2 linked regions of the Homo sapiens genome follow. The protein of the gene in region 1 interacts with the protein of each later gene in a pairwise test. Each region holds a gene or a part of one and is shown on either strand. Other genes may lie near its edges. The genes, in order: PEX11A and HACL1.

Region 1 (4,321 bases):
TAATGTGAGCACTCCTCGATCTGAAAAGGTGGCAAAGGCATGGCTGCTTGCAGAGGTACGGGCAGACGTTGGATGTGGCTTGGAGTATCAGGATGGTATACAAGGCTCCTGGCAGGGAATGCAGGTGGGCACCAGAAACCAGAAAAGAAAGGGAAGTGGGAAAAGACTGGGAGCCATTTCTCCCCACACTGCCATATTCCAGCTGTGTTTCCAGGTATTCTAAGGAGTCTAGGGATTCTGAAGATGAACCTGGCCTTCTACATCATTATGAGGGTCTATTTGTCAATGTAGGAAAACAGACTATATTTTACTTTACAATTTGTTGCTTGATTTATAACTAAAATATTTAAACATACGGTGTGCTGGACTCCATTTGTACTCTTACCCAGGGCCTGCAAATGTTAGGAGCTGGCCTGACCAAGGGAATAAAGATTACGAAAATGTTCACCTTATTTTATTTTATTTTATTTTTTTGAGACAGCGTCTCGCTCTGTCGCCCAGGCTGGAAAGCAGTGGCACAATCTCGGCTCACTGCCACCTCCGCCTCCTGGGTTCCAGCGATTCTCCTGCCTCAGCCTCCCGAGTAGCTGGGATTACAGGCGCCCACCACCACGCCCGGCTACTTTTTTTGTATTTTTAGTAGAGACGGGGTTTCACCCTGTTGGCCAGGCTGGTCTCCAACTCCTGATCGCAGGTGATCCGCCCACCTCGGCTCCCAAAGTGTTGGGATTACAGGCGTAAGCCACAGCACCGGCCGACCTTATTTTGTGGTTATAGAGGGTACATTTTATAAAATTACTGCCACGGAGTGGGTAAGGCTCCTTTTCTTCAAGCCGCACAGAACGAATGTTCAGCGGTGCAATTTCATTGCAATCTATTTTTGCTTCACTTTGCTCATAATGACTCTTTTAGGATTTCCTCAGGTAACAATCTTCTTTCAATGTTCAATAATCCAAGCAGAACATTTTCTCACTTCATCCGCCTCCCATGCTAGGTTCACACTGTGAAATTGGCTTATCTCTGACCTAACCACTTCCTTCACCAGACATAGAGCTGGTGTAGCTCAAGGGAAAGAGGCACGGCGCTGGGAAATGATTAGGCCCCACCGTCCCAAGCAAGAGCTCAGGGGAGTTCTGAGGCTGGAGAGACCATTCGGGATATCACCCCGGGTTCCTGAGAACCTGAGATCTGCGGGGAGGCGTCAGGCATCCGGAAACGCCCGAGTCTGGGGAGACGGACCCCCTCAGACTTTCCTCTAGGAGACTCTACAGGTAAAGGGGAGTCCTGGGACTCGAGGGGAGCCCCGGCATCCAAAGGTAAGATCAGTTTTGCTCACCTGGCCGGGCGGCGTTGCGTCGCCTTGGTAACCACAACTTCCGGCTTGAACCGGAAGTCCGCGAAGTTGCTCTACAGAAAGTGTGCCCGCCCCCTCTGGGGCGGAGAGACTCAGCCCCTCCCCCTCAGCGGATAACCTGGGACTGACCGTTCCCTGGGGATCCGACGGGCCCCAGAGGACCCACGCCTGAGCCCCGTGCGACTCGTGGCCTTTGGGCTAGAAGCCATGGACGCCTTCACCCGCTTCACCAACCAGACCCAGGGCCGGGACCGACTCTTCAGGTGAGTCAGGTGCCAGCGGCCTCCGCCCCTTTCTCGCCCTAACTCGGCTCCCGTGCCTATTCCCCTGCACCCGGGAAAAAGGAGGTGATAGCCTAGTAGATGGAAGCAGGAAGGACGTTGCCAGCTCCTACGGAGGGAGTTTAGTATCCGAGCCCCTCCTTACCCTAAATTCAACGTGAGTGGGCCCAACGCACCCGCGTCCCGTCCTAGCCCCGTGCACGAAAGCCCCAGTGCCTGGCACCCTAGCCGCCTCGAGACCGCCGACGACGGGACACCGGCTGACAGATCCTCCTCCCCTCCTAACTTTGCTCTCCGGGCACAGAAAGATTGGTTCTCTCCACTCAACATTCTTCCGAGGGATCTCCTTTAAAGAGAAACTTTGGATTAGTATTTGTGGCTAGGGAAGCAAACCACTTGGTGTGACTTCAAATATCTCTCTTTTTTTTTTCTTTTGAGACGGAGTCTCGCTCTGTCGCCCAGGCAGTGGCGCGGTCTCGGCCCACTGCAACCTCTGCCTCCCGGGTTCAAGCGATTCTCCTGCCTCAGCCTCCTGAGTAGCTGGGATTACAGGCGTGCACTACCACGCCCGGCTACTTTTTGTATTTTTAGTAGAGACGGGGGTTTCGCCATGTTGGCCAGGCTGGTCTCGAACTCCTGACCTCAGGTGATCTGTCCACCTCGGCTTCCCAAAGTGCTGGGATTACAGGTGCGAGCCACCGCGCCCGGTCTCAAATACCTCTTGAAATGTTTGAGGAGAGACAGAAGTTCTCTTCCATTATTACCCAGGCTGTATCATTGAGATACTGCATGTGGAATAGTTTTGTAAATTGTAAAACAAAATATAGCGGGGATGAGACCACACCAACTGGATTGGGGGGAAATACAGTGGGGAGAAGCTCAGAAAGAACTAACTGCACCTCTAAGGTTCATGCTGTGCTACTGAAAATATTAAACAGAGATTGTGTCTCTTTTTCTTTTGGTTCCATAAGAAACGAAAAGAACTGAGAGATTGTATCTTTAATACGAATACAGTACTAGTTCATGATGTTTTAGAGATTTGGTTGATTCTTGCTTAATGAAAAAATATTTACAGTTGCAGTTTTATTTAACAGCTCTGCATTCTCTTCTGGGTGTGCAAGTGCTGATACAAACAGATCAATTAGAATGGCCCCAATAATGAGGCTTTTGGAAGCCATCTTTATGACAGCTATTGTTCCCAGTGTTTTGCAACTATGAACTTATATAACCCTCATCACAACCCTATGAGGTAGATACTCTAAATATTTTACCCACTTCAGATGGAGAAACTGAAGCAGAAAGAGGTTAATAGGTACTACAATGGCAGAACTGAGGGATTCACATCCACGCAAATGACTCCAGTGCCCACTTAACTACCAAGCTATACTGGCTTTCTCATTAGTTTGATAGGTTTTTTAAATGGTTACTTTATATACAAGCTTCATTAAATAGAAATTTCATTAAATAGAAACCTGTAATTCCAGTGTACCTAGAATGTACCCTGCAGGGTTTATCAAGGAAGTTGGTTAAAAAAATAATCATTTAGGCCGGGTGCAGTGGCTTACACCTGTAATCCCAGCACTTTGGGAGGCTGAGGTGGGCGGATCACAAAGTCAGGAGATCGAGACCATCCTGGCTAACATGGTGAAACCCTGTCTCTACTAAAAATACAAAAATTAGCTGGGCGTTGTGGTGGGCGCCTGCAGTCCCAGCTACTCAGGAGGCTGAGGCAGGAGAATGGCATGAGCCCAGGAGGCAAAGCTTGCAGTGAGCCAAGATCACGCCACTGCACTCCAGCCTGGGCAACAGAGCGAGACTCCTTCTAAAAAAAAAATAAAAACATTAAAAATAATAATCATCATCATTTAGGCCGGGTTCAGTGACTCACACCTGTAGTCCCAGCACTTTGGGAGGCTGAGGTGGGCAGATCATGAGGTCAGGAGTTCGGGACCAGCCTGGCCAACATGGTGAAACCCCATCTCTACTAAATATGCAAAAATTAGCTGGGCGTGATGGCACATGCCTGTAATCCCAGCTACTCAGGAGGCTGAGGCAGGAGAATCGCTTGAATCCGGGAGGCGGAGTTTGCAGAGAGCCAAGAACGCACCACTACCCTCCAGCCTGGGCAACAGAGCGAGACTCTGTCTCGAAAAATAATAATAATAATAATTTAAGATATGTTTATTCCAAAAGATCTGAGATCTCTAGCATTCATTTCCCAACCTCCTTGATGATCTGTATAACCTTTATGACCACACTGGCATTCATAAAATAATACCTTGCTTTCTGTGCCAATAATGCTCATGCAAACACGGTGAACATTCCTAAAACCTGTCAGACTGTAAGAAGTGTGGCAAGCACCAACCCCACAAAGTGACATAGTACAAGAAGAGCAAGGATTCTCTGTATGCCCAGGGAAAGCAGCATTATGACAGGAAGCAGAGTGGCTGTGGTGGGCAGACTAAGCCGATTTTCCAGAAAAAGTCTAAAACTACCAAGAAGTTTGTGCTAAAGCTTGAGTGTGTTGAGCCCAGTGAAGATCTAAGAGAATCCTGGCTATTAAAAGATGCCAGCATTTTGAACTGGGAGGAGATAAGAAGAGAAAGGGCCAAGTGATCCAGTTCTAAGTATCATCTTTTGTTTTATTATGAAGACAATAAAATCGAGTTTATGTTCACTTCAAAAA
Region 2 (3,830 bases), on another chromosome or scaffold:
TTGTACCCTTTGACCTATCTCCCTATTCCCCCTCCTCCTCCTCATTCCCTCCCCGGTAACTAACTCTACTTTCAGTTTCTAAGAATTGAAGGGGTTTTTTTTTTCCAAGTCTTTCTACCCTAGATCAGCATTAGCTCTACTCAGTAAAATCCTGCAGTGACCTTTTTAAGAAAATGTTTTCAGTAATAATAATGTCATTACCAGCAGTTCATGTTTGCATTTGCCATACCGCCCAAGGCATGGATGAGACCTGGGCCAGAAACAACAAGGCAGACTCCTGGCCTAAAAGCAAAACAGAATTTATTAAAATCAGGTCAAATGTAACAACTGATTCATAACACTTTAGTGTGAAACATGGCAATCTTGGACTTCAAAGGAAGGACATACAAGTCTTTACTATAACTGATAAAACAATTATTAGAATATTTTTAATTAAAAAACAAGGCGATATATATATATCGCGATATATATACATACACACATATACGTATATAGTGTATACACTATATATGTATATAGTGTATATATACGTATATACGTGTATATATACACACACTATATACATAGTGTATATATATACACACTATATACCTATAGTATATACTATATACGTATATATACACACACTACATACGTATATATACACACACTATATACGTATATATACGTATATACGTATACGTATATATACACACACTATATACGTATATATACACACTATATACGTATACATACGTGTATATATGTATACATACGTATATACGTATACATGCATGTATATATGTATACATACGTATATATGTATACATGCGTGTATATATGTATACATACGTATATACGTATACATACGTGTATATATGGATCCATATATACGTATACATACGTGTATATGTATACATACGTATATATATGTATACATATATGTATATATACTCTGGGCACCAGAGTATACTCTATATATATGTATACATACAGACACACGTATACACACACGTGTATACATGTAGACACACGTATACACACACGTATGCATGTAGACACACGTATACATACACACACGTATACATACACACACGTATACATACACTTGTATACATATACACTTGTATATACACTTGTATACATATACACATGTATACACATGTACGCACATGTGTGCGTGTATACACATGTACGCACATGTGTGCGTGTATACACATGTACGCACATGTGTGCGTGTATACACATGTACGCACATGTGTGCGTGTATACACATGTACGCACATGTGTGCGTGTATACACATGTACGCACATGTGTGCGTGTATACACATGTACGCACATGTGTGCGTGTATACACATGTACGCACATGTGTGCGTGTATACACATGTACGCACATGTGTGCGTGTATACACATGTACGCACATGTGTGCGTGTATACACATGTACGCACATGTGTGCGTGTATACACATGTACGCACATGTGTGCGTGTATACACATGTACGCACATGTGTGCGTGTATACACATGTACGCACATGTGTGCGTGTATACACATGTACGCACATGTGTGCGTGTATACACATGTACGCACATGTGTGCGTGTATACACATGTACGCACATGTGTGCGTGTATACACATGTACGCATATGTACATATATACTCTGGGCAAGAGTGAGATGCTATCTCAAAAAAAGTGTATATATACACACACATATACATATATGTGTGTGTATATATACACACACATACGTATATATGTATATATACACACATACACACATACGTATATATGTGTGTATATATACACACATATATATGTGCGTGTGTGTATATATATACACACTTTTTTTTTGAGATAGCATCTCACTCTGTTGCTCAGGCTGGAGTGCAGTGGCATGATCAGGGCTCACTGCAGCCTCAACCTCCTAAGCTCAGGTGATCTTCCCACCACAGCCTCCCAAGTAACCGGGACTACAGGCAGATGCCACCACACCCGGCTAATTTTTTGTATTTTTTTTTGGTAGAGATGGGGTTTCACCATGTTGCCCAGGCTGGTCTTGAACTCCTGGGCTCAAGCAATCTGCCTGCCTTGGCCTCCCAAAGTGCTGGGATTACAGGCATAAGCCAGCATGCCTGGCCCAAAAAAAGAAAGATATCGGATTTCTTGTGAGAAATAAGGTACCTATCATTTTCACACCTTATGTCTCTAACCACTTATTTTGATCTGGACTACATCTGGACTAAATCAAGTTAATGGTATACAGAAGCAAATTTTTGACTGCTGAGTTCATTTTTGTATGAAAAAAGGTTTTTTTTTCATTTCTTAACAAATAAATATAACGTCGACTGATCTTTGATAGGAAAGTAATTCTGAATGCAGTGCTCTGCCCAAAATGTTTTGTGTTTTTTTTTTTGTCTTTTTTTTTTTTTTTTTTGAGACGAAGTCTCGTTCTTGTTCCCCAGGCTGCAGTGCAATGGTGTGATCTCGGCTCACTGCAACCTCCGCCTCCCGGATTCAAGTGATTCTCCTGCCTCAGCCTCCCAAGTAGCTGGGATTACAGGCATGTGCCACCACACCCGGCTAATTTTTGTATTTTTAGTAGAGACGGGGTTTCACCATGTTTGGCCAGGCTTGTCTCCAACTCCTGGCCTCAGGTGATCCACCCGCCTCGGCCTCCCAAAGTGCTGGGATTACAGGCATGAGCCACCGCGCCTGGTCCCCAAAATCTTTTAAAACTGAATTTGAGGCTGAGCACGGTGGCTGACGTCTGTAATCCCAGCATCTTGAGAGGCTGAGGCAGATGGATCACTTGAGTCTAGGAGTTCAAGACCAGCCTGGGCAACATGATGAAACCCTGTCTCTAAAAAATATAAAAACTAGCTGAGTATGGTGGTGCACACCTGTAGTGCCAGCTACTTGGGAGGCTGAGGCAGGAGAATCGCTGGAACCTGGGAGGTGGAGTTTGCAGTGAGCCGAGATGGTGCCACTGCACTCCAGCATGGAGACGACAGAGTGAGACTCCAAATAAATAAATATTGAACTTGAATGTTTTACCCTTCAGTGTGACTTTCTAAGCTTAAACCACTCGGGAAAAAGGTATCTCAATATAATTCAGTTCACCATTTTACACTTATAAAATAATTTCTTAAAAATTTCTGTTTAAGACAGACTTGAAAATAAGTAATTACCACCAAGTAAACTAAACTTCTAGAACAGTACTATCCAACAGAACTTTGTATAGTAATAGAAATGTTCTGCATTTGCAGTATGATACGGTAGCCACTACTGACATGGTTACTGAGCACTTGAAATGTGGCTACTACAAACTGATAAACTATGATTTAAATGTTATTTAATTTTAATTAATTTAAATGTAAACAAGTCATACGGCTCGTGGCTACTATACTTGCCAGTGCAGCTCCAGAAGTTCATTCAAACAGCAAAAATGTTTTAAATATGAACTTTTCGGCCGGGCATGGTGGCTCACGCCTGTAATCCCAGCCCTTTGGGAGGCCAAGGCCAGCAGATCATGAGGTCAAGAGACAGAGACCATCCTGGCCAACATAGTGAAACCCCATCTCTACTAAAATACAAAAATTAGCTGGGTGTGGTGGTGCATGCCTGTAATCCCAGCTACTGGGGAAGCTGAGGCATGAGGATCGCTTGAACCCAGGAGGCAGAGGTTCCACTGAGCCGAGATTGCACCACTGCACTGTCCAGCCCAGATAACAGTGCAAGACTCCATCTCAAAAAAAAAAAAGTATGAACTTTTAACCATTCTCTTAATCATTGTTCTAGCATTTTTTACATTAAGGCATTAATTAATAACTATAATTTAAATGCTTTCC

What was found.
Region 2: the proteins of PEX11A (region 1) and HACL1 come close enough for resonance energy transfer, tested with the Homo sapiens proteins (one large-scale study listed by BioGRID).

The regions. Positions count from the first base shown.
Region 1 is NC_000015.10:89,687,873-89,692,193, reverse strand, and holds the start of PEX11A (peroxisomal membrane protein 11A), read left to right. Parts: upstream 1-1,439; 5' UTR 1,440-1,561; coding exon 1,562-1,617; intron 1,618-1,780; exon of another isoform or gene 1,781-1,846; intron 1,847-3,913; exon of another isoform or gene 3,914-4,317; intron 4,318-4,321. UniProt on the Homo sapiens protein: May be involved in peroxisomal proliferation and may regulate peroxisomes division. May mediate binding of coatomer proteins to the peroxisomal membrane. Promotes membrane protrusion and elongation on the peroxisomal surface.
Region 2 is NC_000003.12:15,591,399-15,595,228, forward strand, and holds part of HACL1 (2-hydroxyacyl-CoA lyase 1), read right to left. Parts: intron 283-3,830; coding exon 202-282; intron 1-201. UniProt on the Homo sapiens protein: Peroxisomal 2-OH acyl-CoA lyase involved in the cleavage (C1 removal) reaction in the fatty acid alpha-oxydation in a thiamine pyrophosphate (TPP)-dependent manner.